Linked DNA regions of Homo sapiens. The protein of the gene in region 2 purifies or fractionates together with the protein of the main gene of each other region. This does not show direct contact. Each region holds a gene or a part of one and is shown on either strand. Other genes may lie near its edges. The genes, in order: DLAT and OGDH.

Region 1 (9,785 bases), on a different chromosome or scaffold from region 2:
AGCCTGTTTCTTCACACTACCCTATCCTGCCTTCTGTTTTGATGCTCTGCCATCCATAATTACTAAAGAAAAATATGCTTATTTCCCCAATTTTCTAGTTATGGGTACTCAATGGTGGTTATCCCGTATCTGCAATTTGCTATCTTGTAGTTAGAAGTCAAGCCAATCCCAAGACACAAGAGTAGAATGTTGTAAATTTTTTGGACCTCAGAGATTCTTGTAATATTGGAAGATTCTTTTTTTTCCATCTTAATGCCATTTCAGTAGTATATTGCTATCATATATGTATATATGATTAGAATCAGGGACAGCAGTGTAAGTTGGAGTAACTTTTAAAGGGAGAAAGGACTGGGTTAATAATTATATCTAAAGAATTTAGACAAGCAAAGAAGGACCATTTATTAGATATTCAGCAATACTCGTTACCTTACTAAAGATATAAGTGGAAAATCCCTTAGGTATGAGCTGAGAGGAGTGTTAAAAAAAAAAAAGAAAGAAAGAAAATCCCACTGTTCTTACTATGCAGGCAGAGTTAGGTGATAAATATCATCGACTGCTATCTACACATCAGACACTTGTTCATCAGATGGATAAGATTTCAGTTTCAGTTGCTTATATGACCAACAATAAAGAATTAAATGAACAGAAAGGGAGTATAGCATAGTAGTTAAGAGTGTGAGCTCTGTAGCTGGAATGCTTGGGTATGAACCTCAGCTCTTTATACTAGCTGTGTGACCTTTTGTGTCACAATTTCTTTGTATATAAAAACATTAGGTTTAATGGTTGTGAGGTTTAAATAAGTTAACCAGTGCCTGTACAGAGAAAGCATATCTAGGTATTAGCTATAATGATAATAATATTTTTGTTATTAAATAAGATGATTTGAGTGCTAAGAAAGAAAGAAACTCAGTGATATACTAGTGAGTGAAAGGGTGAATGGATATATGTGCAGTCATGACTACTTTTAGACAGGTTGGTTGGGAGATCTTTTTGATGAGGTGACATTTGATTTGTTTTGAAAGATAAGAAGGAGGCAGCTTGAGCCAACCATGTGAAGAACTGGGGAAAGATCATTTTGGATAGAGAGACTAGCTGTACACAGTCTGAAATGGGAAAGAGTTTAGCATGTCTGAGGAACATAAAAGAGGCCAGTGTTGGCCAGGCGCAATGGCTCACGCCTGTAATCCCAGCACTTTGGGAGGCCGAGGCAGGTGGATCACAGGTCAGGAGATGGAGACCATCCTGGCTAACACGGTGAAACCTCGTCTCTACTAAAAATACAAAAAAATTAGCTGGGCATGGTGGCAGGCGCCTGTGGTCCCAGCTACTCGGGAGGCTGAGGCAGGAGAATGGCGTGAACCTGGGAGGCCAAACTTGCAGTGAGCCGAGATAGTGCCACTGCACTCCAGCCTGGGCGACAGAGCAAGACTCCGTCTCAAAGAAAAAAAAAAAAGGCCAGTGTTAATGAAGCATAATGAGCAAAGGGTCTAGTAGGAGATGAGATTGGAAAAAAACAGGGATGAGAACATAAATGACCTTATAGATTATGGTAAAGAGTTTGAATTTTATTTAAAGTACTTGAGGAAGCCATTGAGAAATTTAAGCAAAGAAGTGAAATAAAATGATTATGTTTTGAAAAGATCATTTTGGTTGCTCCATGGAAATGGATGAAACGTTTATATAGTTTATGTTTGACAAGATCCCTACTTTTTGTTACCCATAGTCCAGTGTTGTTCCCTTTATACCATATTGCTTTATGATGGCCTGTTGTGCCGCCCAAGAGAGATAGGGAAAAGGGTTTACAAGGTTTCAACTAACTCCTAAGTCAGGAAATTCTTGTGGGTGGCTGAAGCTTAGCATAAGGCAGGTGGTACTATGGATTTCCTCCTCTTGAGGGACTGTGGTGTCTAGATCAGCCTTGGTTGTAAGGGGAGGTTATGGTTTCTGTCTTTTACAAAGGAGAGAAATCTAATAGGGGTACTACCACCTCTGTTCTAGAGCTCCTAGTGAGGATAAATACAATCCTAGCCAACTCAGTTTTCGTAATGAAGGAAAGGAATTGGGAAGAACTACACACAACAAGAGTCCTTTTTAAAGTCTGCCTTGGGGGAAGATGAATCAGTTTGACCAAATTTTTCCTAGAAGTGGGCCAGTGTAAAAGGTATTCTATAATAATAACTAAATTCTGAATCTCCGTAGAATTAAAGGTCAAGATTATCTACTTGGGTCCAAAATTAAACCTAAGAGGCTGTAGGTGGGAGGAGGGAGGAAATTGAATATAAGTAAAATTAAACCTACTGAGAGAACTTTGAAGATCCTTCCTCATGTGTGACATTGCACCTTTTTCCTTCATTTCCTTTAACACGGGCCAGTTTAGAGCCTTGGCTACTGTGAAAAAGCTATGAGTCATAGAGACCACATAAGGAATGAATGATTCTAAAGATAAGATAATTGCAGTAAAGAGTTATTCGTGCTATTTTGGGGTGAAAAAATCGACTTGATTTGTCAAAACAATTATTGTTATACCTGTAAATTCTGTATAAAAGGAATTCTTTATGGTCACATAAATCCAGAACCCAAATGAAATCTATTTCACGGCTTAGGAATGGTTTTTTGGAGCTAACCAGGAGGAGGCAGCTAGTTTCCCTTTTGGAGATATAAACTGTGCTCGGCATTATCCTTATGCCACATTTCCCAATTTAAAAGTAAGGAAGATGAAAAAAATTAAGTACAACTTGGATAAAACTCTAAAAGAGAAATACATAAAGGAATATTTGCAGTAGTTAAAAAGAAAAGACCCACTCCAGATCACACACTGGTACTCTGTGTGGATTAAAATTAATAGTTGACAAAAGCTGGTATTTGTAGGTAGCACCTTAAGGGGTAGGGTTAAGGCTGTGAACCTTTCAGAATGTTTTTGGTAGTAAACCCTTAGGAGCTTGCAGTTTAGGATCACAGCGTTGATCTCCTTGGGGAACCAATGGTATGTCATCATGTATGTGATATTTATGTCTCTTACAGGGACAGGACCAGATGGTAGAATCACCAAGAAGGATATCGACTCTTTTGTGCCTAGTAAAGTTGCTCCTGTGAGTTATGTGTAGCTCTTACTTTTTTTGCAGTTTGTCTCTACAGCCTGTTAGACCATTTCATACATTATTTATGAACGAAATAGCTCAACCAAGATTGTTTTCTTCTAATTTCAGTGGTTTAATAATACAGTCATCCCTCGGTACCCATGAGAGGTTGGTTCCAGGAGCCCCCTTGTATACCAAAATTCGCAAATGCTTAAGTCTCTTATATAAAATAGTGTAGTATTTGTATATAACTTACCCACATCCTCTCAAATACTTTAAATCATCTCTAGATTACTTATAATATTAAATACAAGGTAAATACTATGTAAATAGTTGTTATATTTTATTGCTTAGGAAATAATAATAAGGACAAAAAGTCTGTACTTGTGCAGTTCAGATGCAACCATCTGTTTTTTTCTGGAATATTTTTGATTTGCCTTTGGTTGAATCCAGTGATGCAGAACTTATGGATATGGAGGGCCAAGTGTATTTAGATATTTGTGTGCTATCATTTATATACAAGATCAAAGATGATATACTACATTGACATGTATTCCACATTATGTTTTGAGCTAGTTAATCGGTTTTTGCTTTGAAATAAAAGATTTGTTCTTTTTTTCTTTTTCAAAATATTTTAAAGTACAGTTGAATGAGTTGTTTTTGGTGTTTGGTTTTTTTTGTTTGTTTGTTTTTGAGACAGTCTCACTCTGTCGCCCAGGCTGGAGTGCAGTGGCGCGATCTTGGCTCATTGCAACCTCTGCCTCCTGGATTCAGGCGATTCTCATGCCCCAGCCTCCCAGGTGGCTGGGACTACAGGTGCATGCCATCACACCTGGCTAATTTTCGTATGTTTAGTAGAGACAGGGTTTCGCCATGTTGGCCAGCCTGGTCACGAACTCCTGGCCTCAAGTGAGTCATTGTGAGGCTCAAGTGAGCCTCCCAACCCCCTTTTCTTAACATTGTTTAGGATAATGGATTAGCTTGTTTATACTTATTTATTATTCCTTGCAACTTAAGAATGCTTCCATTGCTTTTCTTGAACATAATTTTGCAAAAACAAAATTATTTTGACACAAACTGGTCATTGAACATACTCTGATACAAAGAAAAATGACACTTAAAACATGACTTCAGAATTCTAAGTAAAAAAATTAAAACTCTTAAAACAAGCAGAAGTCTCTTTTGCTCACTGGGGACAGAAATAGGTATTCTATAAAGCTTAGTTTTTAGACTGGACATGGTGGCTCATGCTTGTAACCCCAGCACTTTGGGAAGCCAAGGTGGGTGGATCACTTGAGCCCAGGCATTTGAGACCAGCCAGGGCAACGTGGCTAATTTCCGTCTCTACTAGAAATCCAAAAAAATTAGCTGGGCATGTTGGCGTGCACCTGTAGTCCCAGCTACTCTAGGGGCTGAGATGGGAGGATTGCTTGAGCCCAGGAGGTTGAGGCTGCAGTGAACCATGATTGAGCCACTGCATTCTAGCCTGGGTGACAGAGCAAGACTCTGTCTCAAAAGACAAAAAAAAAAAACTGCATAGTCACTGGCAGTCTTTCCCAGGTACTTACGCTAAGATTGAATCACAGTTACTAAGAGCTTTTTCTTTCCTCCCATAGGCTCCGGCAGCTGTTGTGCCTCCCACAGGTCCTGGAATGGCACCAGTTCCTACAGGTGTCTTCACAGATATCCCAATCAGCAACATTCGTCGGGTAAGAGAATTACCATCATCTGGAATCAGCTGTTAGGGGCATCTTTAGGTTGTTTAGTTGCTTCCATAGTTTTTAACACATTAACAGAGGCTTTTTAAGTTGGGAATATTGGATGATTACTTTAAGGGAAGTTTTGGCCAACTGAATACTTGAATCACTTTGTTCCTATTAGAAGGGCCAGGCGCAGTAGCTCATGCCTGTAATCCCAGCACTTTGGGAGGCCAAAGCGGGCAGATCACAAGGTCCAGACTTCGAGACCAGCCTGGCCAACATAGTGAAACACCCCGTCTCTACTAAAGATACAAAAATTAGCCGGGCATGGTGGCACATGCCTGTAGTCCCAAGTACTCGGGACGCTGAGGCAGGAGAATTGCTTGAACTTGGGAAATGGAGGTTGTGGTGAGCCGAGATCGCACCACCGCACTCCAGCCTGGGCAACATAGCGAGACTCCATCTCAAAAAAAAAAAAAAATCTAGGAGGTGTTATATTATGGCGGAGTCCTCCATCTTTCAATTATAATAATGCTTGAGGTAAGTATTAGCAGAGAGTAAGGTGAAGAGACAAACAGAGCCCTAAATTAGTTAAGGTCTTAACTCAAGATAATTGATTTTTTAAATCTCTTTGGTTTCAGGTTATTGCACAGCGATTAATGCAATCAAAGCAAACCATACCTCATTATTACCTTTCTATCGATGTAAATATGGGAGAAGTTTTGTTGGTACGGAAAGAACTTAATAAGGTAAAAGTTCTGAAAATTCCAACTTTCTAAGTTATAAAAATTTTGTCTTTCCCCACCAAACATTTATATTTTTGTCCATATATTTTGTTACAATATATCAGTTGGTGGTTACTTTCTTGATCTTGTCCTTTGAAGCACAAGATTTTAAATATTGGTTATGTCCACTTTTATCAATTTTTTTCTTCTGTGCTTTTGGTATTATATCTAAGAAACTATTACCTAGTCTAAGGTCATGAAGATTTATACTTTTGTTTCCTTGTAACAGTTTTATACTTTTAGTTCTTATATTCAGGTCTTTGCTCTATTTTGAGTTAATTTTTTATAGGTGGTGTGAGATAGGAATCCAACCATTGTTTTGCATGTGGACATTTATTCTTTCATCCCAGCACCATCTTTCCCCATCGAATTGTCTTGGTATCCTTGTCAAAATTAATCATATATGTGAGAATTTTATTTCCAGATTTTTTTTTTTTTGTAGATCTTGTTATTTTTTGTTTTGTTTTGTTTTATTATACTTTAAGTTCTGGGATACATGTGCAGAACGTGCAGGTTTGTTACATAGGTATACACGTGCCATGGTGGTTTGCTGCACCCACCAACCCATCATCTACATTAGGTATTTCTCCTAATGCTATCCCTCCCCTTAGCCCCCCACCCCCCTACAGGTCCTGGTGTGTGATGTTTCCCTCCCTGTGTCCATGTGTTCTCATTGTTCAACTCCCACTTACAAGTGAGAACATGCGGTGTTTGGTTTTCTGTTCCTGTGTTAGTTTGCTGAGAATGATGGTTTCCAGCTTCATCCATGTCCCTGCAAAGGACACAAACTCATCCTTTTTTTTATGGCTGCATAGTATTCCATGGTGTGTATGTGCCACATTTTCTTTATCCAGTCTATCATTGATGGGCATTTGGCTTGGTTCCAAGTCTTTGCTATTGGGAACAGTGCTGCAGTAAACATATGTGTGCATGTGTCTTTATAGTAGAATGGTTTATAATCCTTTGGGTCTATACCCAGTAATGGGATTTCTGGGTCAAATGGTATTTCTGGTTCTAGATCCTTGAGGAACCGCCACACTGTCTTCCACAATGGGTTGAACTAATTTACACTCCTACCAACAGTGTAAAAGCGTTCCTATTTCTCCACATTCCAGCATCTGTTGTTTCCTGACTTTTTAGTGATCGCCATTGTAACTGGCGTGAGATGGTAACTCACTGTGGTTTTGATTTGCATTTCTTTAATGACCAGTGATGATGAGCTTTTTTTCATGTTTGTTGGCCACATAAATGTCTTCTTTTGAGAAGTGTCTGTTCATATCCTTTGCCCACTTTTTGATGGGGTCATTTGTTTTTTTCTTGTAAATTTGTTTAAGTTCCTTATAGATTCTGGATATTAGCCCTTTGTTAGATGGATAGATTTCAAAAATTTTCTCCCATTCTGTAGGTTGCCTGTTCACTCTGATGATAGTTTCTTTTGCTGTGCAGAAGCTCTTTAGTTTAATTCGACCCCATTTGTCTATTTTGGCTTTTGTTGCCATTGCTTTTGTTGTTTTAGTCATGAAGTCTTTGCCCATGCCTGTGTCCTGAATGGTATTGCCTAGGTTTTCTTCTAGGGTTTTTATGGTTTTAGGTCTTACGTTTAAGTCTTTAATCCATCTTCAGTTATTTTTTGTATAAGGTGTAAGGAAGGAGTCCAGTTTCAGTTTTCTACATATGGCTAGCCAGTTTTCCCAACATCATTGATTAAATAGGGAATCCTTTCCCCATTGCTTGTTGTTGTCAGGTTTGTCAAAAATCAGATGGTTGTAAATGTGTGGCATTATGTCTGAGGCTTCTGTTCTGTTCCATTGGTCTATATATCTGTTTTGGTACCAGTACCATGCTGTTTTGGTTACTGTAGCCTTATAGTATAGTTTGAAGTCAGGTAGCATGATGCCTCCAGCTTTGTTCTTTTTGCTTAGGATTGTCTTGGCTATACGGGCCCTTTTTTGGTTCCATATGAAATTTAAAGTAGTTTTTTTCTAATTCTGTGAAGAAAGTCAATGGTTGCTTGATGAAGATAGCATTGAATTTATAAATTACTTTGGGCAGTATGTCCATTTTCACGATATTGATTCTTCCTATGCATGAGCATGGAATGCTTTTCCATTTGTTTTTGTGTCCTCTCTTATTTCCTTGAGCAGTGGTTTGTAGTTCTCCTTGAAGAGGTCCTTCACATCCCTTGTAAGTTGTATTCCTAGGTATTCTATTCTTTTTATAGCAATTGTGAATAGGAATTCACTCACAATTTGGCTCTCTGTTTGTCTGTTATTGGCGTGTAGGAATGCTTGTGATTTTTGCACATTGATTTTGTATCCTGAGACTTCACTGAAGTTGCTTATCAGCTTAAGGAGATTTTGGACTGAGATGATGGGGTTTTCTAACTATACAATCATGTCATCTACAAACAGACAATTTGACTTCCTCTTTTTCTATTTGAATACTCTTTATTTCTTTCTCTTGCCTGATTGCCCTGGCCAGAACTTCCAATACTATGCTGAATAGGAGTGGTGAGAGAGAGCATCCTTGTCATGTGCCAATTTTTGAGACTGAGTCTCACTCTGTTGCCCAGACTGGGGTGCAGTGGCGTGATCTTGGCTTACTGCAACCTCCACCTTCCAGGTTCAAGCAATTCTCGTCCCTCAGCCTCCCGAGTAGCTGGGATTACAGGTATGAGCCACCAGGCATGGCTAATTTTTGTATTTTTAGTAGGGACAGGATTTCACCATGTTGGCCAGGCTGGTCTCGAACTCTTGACCTCAAATGATCCACCCACCTTGGCCTCCCAAAGTGCTGGAATTACAGCCATGAGCCCCCATGCCTGGCCTATTTCCAGGTTCTTAATTCCATTCCATTAATCTCTGTATACCCTTAATGTCAGTACCACAGTCTTGATTACTTTAGCTTTGTAATAAGTTGTAAAATCAGGAAACGTGAGTCATCTTTGTTCTTTTTTCTCAAGATTTTTTTTTTTTTTTTTTTTTTTTTTTAAAGACAGAGTCTTGCTCTGTCACCCAGGCTAGAGTGCAGTGGCGTGATCTTGGCTCACTGCCAGCTCTGCCTCCCGGGTTCATGCCATTCTCCTGCCTCAGCCTCCCAAGTAGCTGGGACTACAGACGCCCACCACCATGCCCGGCTAATTTTTTGTATTTTTAGTAGAGACGGGGTTTCACCGTGTTAGCCAGAATCAAGATTGTTTTGTCTGAGTCCCTTGCAATTCTAAGTGAATTTTAGGATTAGCTTGTAAATTTCTGCATTGAAGCCAGTTGACATTTTGATAAGGATTGATTGGATGTATCTGCTGATCAGTTTGGCAAGTGTTGCCATCCGAAGAATATAGTCTTTTCATCCATGAACATGTAGATGCCCCTGTATTAGTTAGGTGTTCTTCAGTCTCTTTCAACAGTTTTTTTATAGTTTTTCAGAGTGTAAGTTTTGCACTCTAAATTTGCATTTGTTAAACTTATTTCTAGGTATTTTATTCTTTTTGATACTACTCTAAGTGGAATTGTTTTCTAGATTTCATTTTCAGATTGTTCATTGCTACTATATAAAGGTATGATTGATTTTTTTTTTTTTTTAAGACTAGTCAGGTATACTAGTGAGAAGGGCGGAAGAGTAGAAAAGAAGTTAGATTTATAATGGACTCTGAGCAATCAATTGAGATAACAATTCATTTTTCTATATTGATCTTTTTTTTCATATACCTGCTGAAATGGGATCTATATTGACCTTGTATCCTGCAAACTTGCTGAAGTCATTTATTAGTTCTTACAGTTTTTTAGTGTATTTCTTAGGTTTTTCTGTAAACAAGATAATGTTATCTGCAAATAGAGATAATTTTACTTTTTTCATTTTGACCTGTATGCCTTTTATTTCCTTTCTTGCCTAATTGCTCTGGCTGGCGCCTCTAGGCAATGTTGAATAGGTGTAGCAGAAGTGAACATCTTGTCTTGTTCTCGATCTTTGGGAGAATAAGTCTTTGGTCATTAAATAGTTGTGAGGTTTCCATAGATCAGGTTGAGCAAGTTCCCTCCTGTTCCCAGTTAGTAAGAGTGTTTTGATCATGAAAAGGGGTATTGAATTTTATCAAATGCTCTTTCTGTGTCTGTTGAGATGATTATGTGTTTTTTGTCCTGTATTCTGTTAGGACATTATTACATTAATGGATTTTCAGATGTTAATGGAAATTTGCATTCTTGGGATAAATCAGATTTGATCAT
Region 2 (10,469 bases):
ATCCAGACCATCCTGGCTAACACAGTAAAAGCCCGTCTCTACTAAAAATACAAAAGAATTAGCCGGGCGTGGTGGCACGCGGCTGTAGTCCCAGCTACTTGGGAGGCTGAGAAAGGCTTGAACCGGGGAGGTGGAGGTTGCAGTGAGCCAAGATTGCACCACTGCACTCCAGCCTGGGCAACAGAGCAAGACTCCGTCTCAAACAAACAAACAAACAAAAAGATGAAAAGGGCTAGGAGCAGTGGCTCACGCCTGTAATCCCAGCACTCTGGGAGGCTGAGGTGGACAGATCGCGAGGTCAGGAGTTCGAGACCAGCCTGACCAACACGGTGAAACCCCGTCTCTACTAAAAATACAAAAATTAGCCAGGTGTGGTGGCAAGCGCCTGTAATCCCAGCTACTCAGGAGGCTGAGGCGGAAGAATCGCTTGAACCTGGGAGGCAGAGGTTGTAGAGATTACGCCACTGCACTCCAGCCTGGGGGACAGAACGAGACTCCATCTCAAAAACAAAACAAACAAACAAACAAAAAAAAAACCAAGATGAAAAGACATGCTGCTGACTAGGAGAAAATATCTGCAAACTACATATCCAACAAAGCAGTGGTATCTAGAATACATTAGGAATTCTCAAAGCTCAACAGTTAACAAAAACCGAACAATCTAATTACGAAATGAACAAAAGATATGAACAGACATTTCACCCGAGAGTATACAGGGGCCAGGCATGGTGGCTCATGCCTGAAATCCTAGCCTTTGGGAGGCTAAGACAGGAGGATCACTTGATCCCAGGAGTTCAAGACCAGCCTGGGCAACATAGCAAGATCCCATCTCTTCCAAAAAAAGAGAGAATAGACAGATGGCAAATAAGCACATGAAAAGATGTTCAACATCATTAGCCATCAGAAAAATGCAAATTACAACCACAAAGAGACATTACTACACATTTATTGGAATGGCTATAATAAAAAAAGTAACATCACCAAATGCTGGCAAGTATGTGGAGAAACAAGACCATACAGTGCCGGTGGGAATGTAAAATAGTACAATCACTCTGGAAAACAGTTTGGCTATTTGTTTAATAACTAAGCACGCACTACGACTTAGTGATTGTATTCCTGGGCATTTATCTTGGAGAAATGTCAATTTATGTTCAAATAAAAATCTGTACATGAAGGTTTGTAGCAGCTTTATTTGTAATAGCCAAAGAATGGAAACAGTAAAGATGTCTTTTAATGGATGAATAAACCAAATGTGGTACATCCATAGCCCAATAGCCCGGCTTCAATAAAAAGGAATGAAGTACCTTTTTTTTTTTTTTTTTGAGACAGGGTCTCACTCTGTCACTCATGCTGGAGTGCAGTGGCGCGATCTCGGCTCACCGCAGCCACCACAGCCTAGGCTCAAGCGATCCTCCCACCTCAGCTTCCTGAGTAGCTGGGATTACAGGAACACACCACTGCGCCTGGCTAATTTTTTTTTTTTTTTTTTTTTGTAGAGACGAGGTCTCACTATGTTCCTCAGACTCGAACTCCTGGGGCTCAAGCGATCTGCCTGCCTCAGCCTCCCAAAGTTGCTAGGATTACAGGCGTAAGCCACTGCGCCTGGCCAAGGAATGAACTACCCATAACACGCAACAACCTGGATGATTCTCCAGGGAATTAAGCTGACTGGAAAAAACCAATCCCAAAAGGCTCTATGAATCCTTTTATTTGGCATTCTTGACATGCCAAAATTAGGGAAATGAAGAACAGATTAGTGGTTACCAGGAGTTGAAGGACTGGGAATGGGAGGAATGTGGGTGTGGCTATAAAAAAGCAATGGAAGGGATCCTTGTGATGACGGGAATATTCTGTATCTTGAATTTTATTAATGTCAATATCTGGCTGTGATATTTACTATAGTTTTGCACAATGTTAGAGAAGTGGGAAAGGAACACAGGATCTCTCTGTACTATTTATTATGACTGCATAGAATAAATTTTTATGTACAATTTCTTAAAATTTTACTGTTTTCAAAATGAATTTCTCAATAATTTGTACAATGATCTCAAAAATTACCTAAAAATCTAAAAAGTAGATGATACTGTAGTTTTTTCTTTCCTTTTTTTTTTGAGATGGAGTCTTGCTCTGTCGCTCAGGCTGTAGTGCCGTGGCGCCATCTCGACTCGCTGCAACCTCTGCCTCCTGCGTTCAAGCGATTCTCCTGCCTCAGCCTCCTGCTGAGGCTGGAGGAGCTCAGCCTGTAGCTGAGACTACAGGCCCACGCCACCATGCCCTGCTAACTTTTGTATTTTTAGTAGAGACAGGGTTTCACCATGTTGGCCAGGCTGGTCTCAAACTCCCAACCTCAGGGGATCCACCCACCTCGGCCTCCCAAAGTGCTAGGATTACAGGCGTGAGCCACTGCGCCCGGCCTTTTTTTTTGAGACAGGATCTCACTGTGTCACCCAGGCTAGAGTGCAGTGGGGCAATAATGGCTCACTGCAGCTTGGACCTCCCTGGCTCATGCCATCCTCCCGCCTCAGCCTCCTGAGTAGTTGCGACTACAAGTATATGTGGTATATGCCACCATATCCGGATAATTTTATTTTTTGTAGACGCCGGGTATCACTTTGGTTGCTCAGGCTGGTCTCCTTGAACTGAGCTCAAGGGATCTTCCTTTCACACTCCCAAAGTGTGGGGATTACAAACGTGAGCCACCACGACTGGCCGAAATTGTGCACGTCAAATGGGTGAATCGTATGGTATGTGAATTTTATCTCAATAAAGATGTTATTTAAAGGGAAAAAGTAACTGAAATGTGAAAAGTGCGCTTAAAAAAAATAATGAGGGGCCGGGCGCAGTGGCTCACGCCTGTAATCCCAGCACTTTGGGGGCCGAGGCGGGCGGATCACCTGAGGTCAGGAGTTCGAGAATAGCCTGGCCAAGGTGGTGAAAACCCGTCTCTACTAAAAATACAAAAATTAGCCGGGCGTGATGGCGCGTGCCTGTAATATCAGCTACTTGGGAGGCTGAGGCAGGAGAATCACTTGAACCCAGGAAGGCAGAGGTTGCAGTGAGCCGAGATCGCGCCACAGCACTCCAGCCTGGGCGACAGAGACTCCATCTCAAACAAGACAACAACAACAAAAAATGAGCATACAGTGATCTTTATTCAACTTCCCAAGATCCAGTCCTCAGCTAATTTACAAAACTACAATAGTGTTACATACTCTCCTAGGTCTACACGGCAAAGTACAGTTTGACTGTTGCAACTAGTGCTGCCTTACAAAAAAAGGCTTTATCCCATGCCACCCATCCTAAACCCAGCTGTTCAGAGCAGTGTACCTGGAAATCAGCCTCAAAGTACGGACTGCAAGACAAGGCACAAGGAAACCCTAACACGAAGTCCTATGTTCTGGGCAAAGGGATGGGGATGGCAGGTGGGACGCACCCAGGTCAGGGCGAGGGCGCGGCAAGTTTTCTATTAAATCTCAGTAGATTACAACTCATATCCAATGTCTGATATATTTTCGAGGGAAAATGGTGCTTGAAAGATGTTTCTACGAGAAATAAGCTTCATCTCGGTCAATCTGTTCGACCCAACTTCTGGCAGCAGGTGTGGGGGCGGCGCCAAGGTCTGCGCGGTAATCCAAACAGGCAGTCCCACCCAGGGCCACCCCAAAGCCAGATGCTCCGACGCAACTCGAGCAGGCCACACTGTCTTTCGGACAAAGCGACGCGGTCCTCACAGGCGGGAAGGAGAGTGCGTCCCGGTCGGGAAGGACGCCGTCGGAGAGCGGCCTAACCACGTGACGCCCGCGGCGACCTTGGGGGTCACCCCTGCGGACGCACCGCCCTCTCCCTCACATCCGCCGCCGCGCCCGCCCCCCGCTCGCCCACCGCCAATGGCGCGTCGCTCCGCGCCCCGCGCGACCTCGGAGCCCGCCCGTACCCGCCAATCTCCGCCCGCCGGGCAGGCCCCGCGGCTCCATTGGCTGCCACGGCCATCCATCAGGTCCCGTCCCTCCTACCACCCTCCGTGAGCCCCACTCCATCCAGCTCCACTCCCCTGTCACCGCGGCGCCCGCAGCACCAAGGGCGCGGCGGCCTCCCCCTTTACCGCGATCTCCAACCCCGGGCCGCCAAGCGCCGCGACACCCGGCACTGGGACGGGCGCGGCGACAGCGCACGGTTACCTGTCTCCGGCTCAGCTCCACCCGAATGAGGCGCCGACACCCCACTCCGGGGCTCCAAACTCTCGGCCCCGCCCCGGCGTATGGCGTCAACACGTAGCCCTCCCCTGGAGAAGAATGCCCTCCCCTCTTACAGAGGACCGATTCGTGACGTCACAGAGCCGCGCCGGGCGTCACAGCGCCGACTGCGCAGTTGCAGAAGCCAGGGCCAGCTGGAGCCCAGCTGTTTGCTCCGCTAGAGAGATGAGGTTGTCTATGGACTTCCAGCGGCTTCTGCTATCATAAATAATTTCTGAAAGTAAGATATCTCTAGCGCCTGGTAGGAACCTATCAAGAGATAGTTGGGTTGATGTGAAACTTAGCGCACAAAAATAAACAATTTGAATAACAGAATCTCCGTTTTTGAGATTGTCCTGGGTCAGGCTTTGTGACAAGCGCTTCACCGGCGCTATTGTGTAACAATCTGTGAGACAGGTGTTCCTATCCCCGGTCTACAAATGACAGTTGGCAGTGCTGGGATCTTGCCCGGGATCTTGCCTGGGTTTTCTTGACTTTAGAGCTACCTATCAAAGATAAAACGTGGCTAATTAACCTGTCACAACCTGTTGATTGTAAGATGTTCCCTATTTTAAAGTATTAAAATTTGGGGAAAGGCCGGGCGCGGTGGCTCACGCCTGTAATCCCAGTACTTTGGGAGGCCGAAGCGGGCGGATCACTTGAGGTCAGGAGTTCGAGACCAGCTTGACCAACATGGGGAAACCCCGTCTCTACTAAAAATACAAAAATTAGCTGGGCGTGGTGGCGATCCCAGCTACTCGGGAGGCTGAGGCAGGAGAGTCGCTAGAACCCGGGAGACGGAGGTTGCGGTGTGCCGAGATCGTGCCATTGCACTCCAGCCTGGGCAACAAGAGCGAAAATCCGTCTCAAAAAACAAACAAAAAAAGGGGGCGTATAAGTGCTTATTATAGAACAAAGTTAGGGTAATGTATGTGACAAGGATCTAGAGACTGGAAGAGGTGAAGAGACCAAGGAACAAACTTCTGTATTCTTTTTTCCTTTTTTTTTTTTAAATAAATTACGGTAAAAATGTATGTACTAAACATTTGCAGCTGGGTGCAGTGGCTCACGCTTGTAATCCCAGCACTTCGGGAGGTGGAGGCGGGAGGATCGCTTGAGCTCAGGAGTTCCAGATCAGCCTGGGGAACAGAGCAAGATCTCATTTCTACTAAAAAATCAAGAAAATTAGCCAGGTGTAGTGGCACTCACCTGTAGTCTCAGCTAATTGGGAGGCTGAGGCAGGAGGATCTCTTGAGCCTGAGAGATTGAGGCTGCAGTGAGCTATGATTGTACCACTGCACTCCAGCCTGGGCCAGAGAGCAAGATACTGTCTTTTTTTTTTTAATGCCATTTTAACCATTTTTAGGTGTATAACTCAGTGGCATTAATTACATTCACAATATTATGCAACCGTCACCACTCAATTTCCAAAACTTTTTCATCACCTGAAACAGCAACTCTGTAACCATTAAGCAATAACTTCCTATTTCCCCTTCTCCTCCTGTCCTTCTCTCCTTTGGTAACCTCTATTATACGGTCTCTATACATTTGATTACTCAATTACTTTATGTGGGTGAAATCATAATGTATATGTCCTTTTGTGTCCACCTTATTTCATTGAGCATGAGGTTGTCAAGGTTTATCTGTGTTGTAGCATGGGTCAGAACTTCATTTCTTTTTTTTTTTTTTGAGACAGGATCTCCCTCGGTTTCAGGCTGGAGGGCAGTGGTGCCATCTCAGCTCACTGCAATCTCTGCCACCCAGGTTCAAGTGATTCTGATGCCTCAGCCTCCCAAGTAGCTGGGACTACTGGCACGCTCCACCATGCCTGGCTAATATTTTTTTCTTTTTCTTTCTTTCTTTTTTTATTTTTGAGATGGTGTTTCGTTCTTGTTGCCCAGGCTGGAGTGCAGTGGTGTCATCTCGGCTCACTGCAACCTCTGCCTTGTAGATTCAAGCAATTCTCCTGCCTCAGCCTCTCAAGTAGCTGGGATTATAAGCGCCCGCCACTACGCCCAGCTTATTTTGTATTTTTAGTAGCGATGGGGTTTCACCATGTTGGCCAGGCTGGTCTTGAACTCTTGACCTCAAGTGATCCACCCACCTCGACCTCCCAAAGTGCTGGGATTACAGGCATGAGCCCCCATGCCTGGCCAGAACTTCATTTCTTTTTATGGCTGAATAATATTCCATTGTATGTATATACCACATTTTGTTTATTTATTCATCTATTGATGGACACTTGGTTATTTCTGCTTTTTTGCTGTTTTGAATAATGTTGCAATGAACATTGGCTTATAAATGTTTGAGCCCATTGTGGTACCAAGCAGTGGGCTCACTGCTAGATGCACATAGAAGCCAATACTATGTCATCACCTTTTGAGAAAAGGCTTTATCGTAAGGTCGACCAGCAGGGAAACCAGAGGCAATACTCAAATTTGTCTCCCCAAGATGGAATCTGGGGGCAGGTTTTATAGGCAGAAGGCAACTATGAGGGAGATGGGAAAATACAACAAGGTGTGATCTGTTTGGGTCATGCAAAGGGGCAATGCTGGATCTTTGGCTTTTAAGTTCATATTGCAGCAAAACAAGGCGCCCCATGCTTCCTAATTTGGTGTCCATTCCTCCATTTGAGTGGTTAAGTCCTGCCTGTGGTTGACTTTTGTGTTCCCACCGACACCAGGGTCAGCTATCAGGCACACTTTGTTCATCTGGGCATACTTAGGTTACGTGACTTGCAGCCTGGGGATCTATTGTAACTGAAAAACAACTCATCATTTTGTTACTGATAAAAGTTGAACCAGGCTGGGCACAATGGCTCACACCTGTAATCCCAGCACTGTGGGAGACTGAGGTGGGTGGATCACCCGAGGTCAGGAGTTCAAGACCAGCCTGGCCAGCAGGGCGAAACCCCCATCTCTACTAAAAATACAAAAAAATTAGCCAGGCTGGTGGTGGGTGCCTGTAATCCCAGCTACTTGGGAGGCTGAGGCAGGAGAATCGTTTGAACTCGGGAGCCGGAGGTTGCAGTGAGCCAAAACCGCTCCTTTGCACTCCAACCTGGGCAAGAAGAACAAAACTCCATCTCAAAAAAAAAAAAAAAAAAAAAAACTGAATCAGATTCAACTGGTCCTGTGGTTACACCTGTTTATAATTCTTTTGCCTGTATACCTGGGAGTGTAATTTCTGAGTTATATGGGAATTCTGTCTAGCTTTTTCAGGAAGTGATAAATTCCCACAGTGACCGCACCTTTTTTGTTTGTTTGTTTTTGAGACAAGGTGTCAGGTTGGAGTGCAGTAGTGTGATCACAGCTCACTGCAGCCTCAACCTCCGGGGCTCAAGTGATCCTCTCAGCTCACGCTCCTGAGTAGCTGGGACAATGGGCATGCACAACCAGGCTAGGCTAATTTTTTCTGTTTTTTGTAGAGACAGGATCTTGCTGTGTTGCCCAGGCTGGTCTCGAAGTCCTGGCCTCAAGCGATCCTGCTGCCTCAGCCTCCCATAGTGTTGAGATTACAGGTCTGTCTCTATTTTTTTTTTTTACTGTCTCTATTTTTAAAAAAATTACTATCGGTCAGTCATGATGCCTCACTCCTGTAATCCCAGCACTTTCAGAGGCCAAAGTAGGAGGATTATCAGCCTGAGCAACATAGTGAGACTTTGTCTCTCCAAAAAAAAAAAATTAGGAGTGGTGACACATGCCTGTAGTCCTACCTATTTGGAACGCTGGGACAGTAGGATTGCTTGAGCCCAGGAGCTTGAGGTTGCAGTGAGCTATGATCATGCCACAGAACTCTAGCCTGGGCACAGAGCAAGACCCTGTTCCCCCACCTCCCCACTCCCCAACCAAAAAAATTTGGTGAGGTGTAGTGGCTTATGCCTGTAATCCCACCACTTTGGGAGGCTGAGTCAGGAGGATTGCTTGAGGCTAGGAGTTCAAGATCAGCTGGGCAACATAGCAAGACCCCATCTCTAAAAAAAATTTATTACAGCCAACTATAATAAATAGGTATGAGGTGGTATCTCATTGTGGTTTAGAAAGTATTATTATTTTTTAGAGGTAGAGTCTCACTCTGCCACCTAGTCTGGAGTGCATGAGCACAATCAGAGATCACTGCAGCCTTGAACTCCTGGGCTGGGACTGCAAGTGTGGGCCACCACGGCTCATTGTGGTTTTGATTTGCATTTCCCTAGTGGCTAATGATGTTGAGCATATTTTCATGTGGTGCTTGTCCATTTGTATATTTTCTTCAGAGAGCTGTCCATTTGAGTCATTTGCCCATTTTTAAATTGGGTTTTCTTGTTGTTATAGGAGTTCTTTATATATTCTGGATATTAAATCTAATCAGATATATGATTTGCAGATATTTTCTCCCATTTTGTAGGTTTTCATTTCTTTTTTTTTGTTTGTTTGCTTGTTTTGAGACAGGGTCTTACTCTGTTCCCTAGGCTGGAGTGCAGTGGTGTGTGATCATGGCTCACCGCAGGCTTGATCTCCTAGGCTCAAGTGATCCTCTTGCCTCAGCCTCCTGAGTAGCTGGAACCATACCACAGGTGCACACCACCACGCCCAGCTAATATTGTTATTTTATATATTTATGTTTTTTTGAGACAGAGTCTCGTTCTGTCACCAGGCTGGAGTGCAGTGGTGCGATCTTGGCTCACTGCAACCTCTGCCTCCTGGGTTAAAGCGATTCTCCTGCCTCAGCCTCCTGAGTAGCTGGGACTACAGGCATGTGCCACCACACCCAGCTAATTTTTGTATTTTTAGTAGAGACGGTGTTTCACCATGTTGGCCAGGATGGTCTCGATCTCTTCACCTCGTGATCCGCCCTCCTCGGCCTCCCAAAGTGTTGGGATTACAGGCGTGAGCCACCGCACCTGGCCAATATTGTTATTTTTTGTAGAGACAGGGTCTTGCTTTGTTGCCCTGGCTGGTCTTGCACTCCTGGCCTCAAGAGATCCTCCCACCTCAGCCTCTCAAATGTGCCAGGCCTCTCTTTATCTCTTGACAATGTCCTTTGATGAACAAAAGTTTTTAATTTTGTTGTTGTTGTTCCTAAGGAGTTTATCTGGGCTGTCTTGGGGGTGGAGAGGACTCTGTACCTAGAGAAGGTATTGGGTTTCTTGTTAACAAAGTGTGGCTCATGCTGGCATGGCAGGACTGGTGGGGCAGAAAGAACTTGATAGTGAAGTGGTGGAATTGATTGCTGACTGGCAGCACTTTCTGACGCAGTCTCCTTCATCTTCCTCATCTGGATGGAATGCGCCTGGCACTCTGTCACCAGGTGGTGATGTCCACCAGGTCAGGGCCCATGTTCCCAGTGCAGGTTTTGGGTGCCACTTGGAGGATAGTGCAGCCAGATGCCCAAACTCTTCACCTGAAGAGGGCGGGTTCTCCAACACCTGCCCACTGGAGACAGTTTCCACTGAAGGCTTCTTCAGCTGAGATACAAAGTGCCAGAGGCTCAAAGATTCGCATGGGGTAGAGGGTTGGTGTGCAGCTTTTGGGGGTGGTCAGGCAACACCCCCACCACCTTGTGTTCTTGATGTGTGCCCCAGGCCTTCCTGGCTTCTCTTAGTGCTAGCCACCACTCACAAAAGGTTGAAAGTTTTTAATTTTGATGTTGCTTATGTCATATCTAAGAATCCATTGCCAAATCTAAGGTTATGAAGATTTACCCTTATGTTTCTTCTATGAGGTAATGATTTTAGCTCATATTTAGATTGTTTACCCATTTTGAGTTAATTTTTATAAGTGACTGTGCAGTAGGGATCTAACTTCATTTTTTTTTTTTCTAAGACAGGGTCTCTCCCTGTCACCCAGGCTGGAGTACAGTGGCATGATCATAACTCACTGCAGCCTTGAACTGGGCTCAGGTGATCCTCCTACCTCAGCCTCCCAAGTAGCTAGTAATACAGATGCATGCCACCACACCTGGCTATTTTATTTTATTCTATATTTTATTATTTTATTTTAAGTTTATTTTGAGACAAGAGTCTCATTATGTTGCCCAGGCTGGTCTCAAACTTCTGGGCTCAAGCAGTCCTCCCGCCTTAGCCTCCCAAAGCACTGGAATTACAGGTGTGAACCACTGCACCCAGACCAACTTCATTCTTTTACACGTAGAACTCCAATTGTTCCAGCACCATTTGTTTAAAAGACTATTCTTTTTCCATTGAATGGACTTGCACCCTTTTTGAAAATCAGTTGACCATAGATGTTGGGTTTACTT

What was found.
Region 1: the proteins of OGDH (region 2) and DLAT fractionate together in Homo sapiens (co-fractionation; 2 studies listed by BioGRID). This does not show direct contact.

What each region holds. Positions count from the first base shown.
Region 1 is NC_000011.10:112,040,445-112,050,229, forward strand, and holds part of DLAT (dihydrolipoyllysine-residue acetyltransferase component of pyruvate dehydrogenase complex, mitochondrial isoform 2 precursor), read left to right. Parts: intron 1-3,021; coding exon 3,022-3,089; intron 3,090-4,693; coding exon 4,694-4,786; intron 4,787-5,418; coding exon 5,419-5,526; intron 5,527-9,785.
Region 2 is NC_000007.14:44,600,363-44,610,831, reverse strand, and holds the start of OGDH (2-oxoglutarate dehydrogenase complex component E1 isoform 1 precursor), read right to left. Parts: upstream 4,206-10,469; 5' UTR 4,179-4,205; intron 1-4,178. UniProt on the Homo sapiens protein: 2-oxoglutarate dehydrogenase (E1o) component of the 2-oxoglutarate dehydrogenase complex (OGDHC). Participates in the first step, rate limiting for the overall conversion of 2-oxoglutarate to succinyl-CoA and CO(2) catalyzed by the whole OGDHC.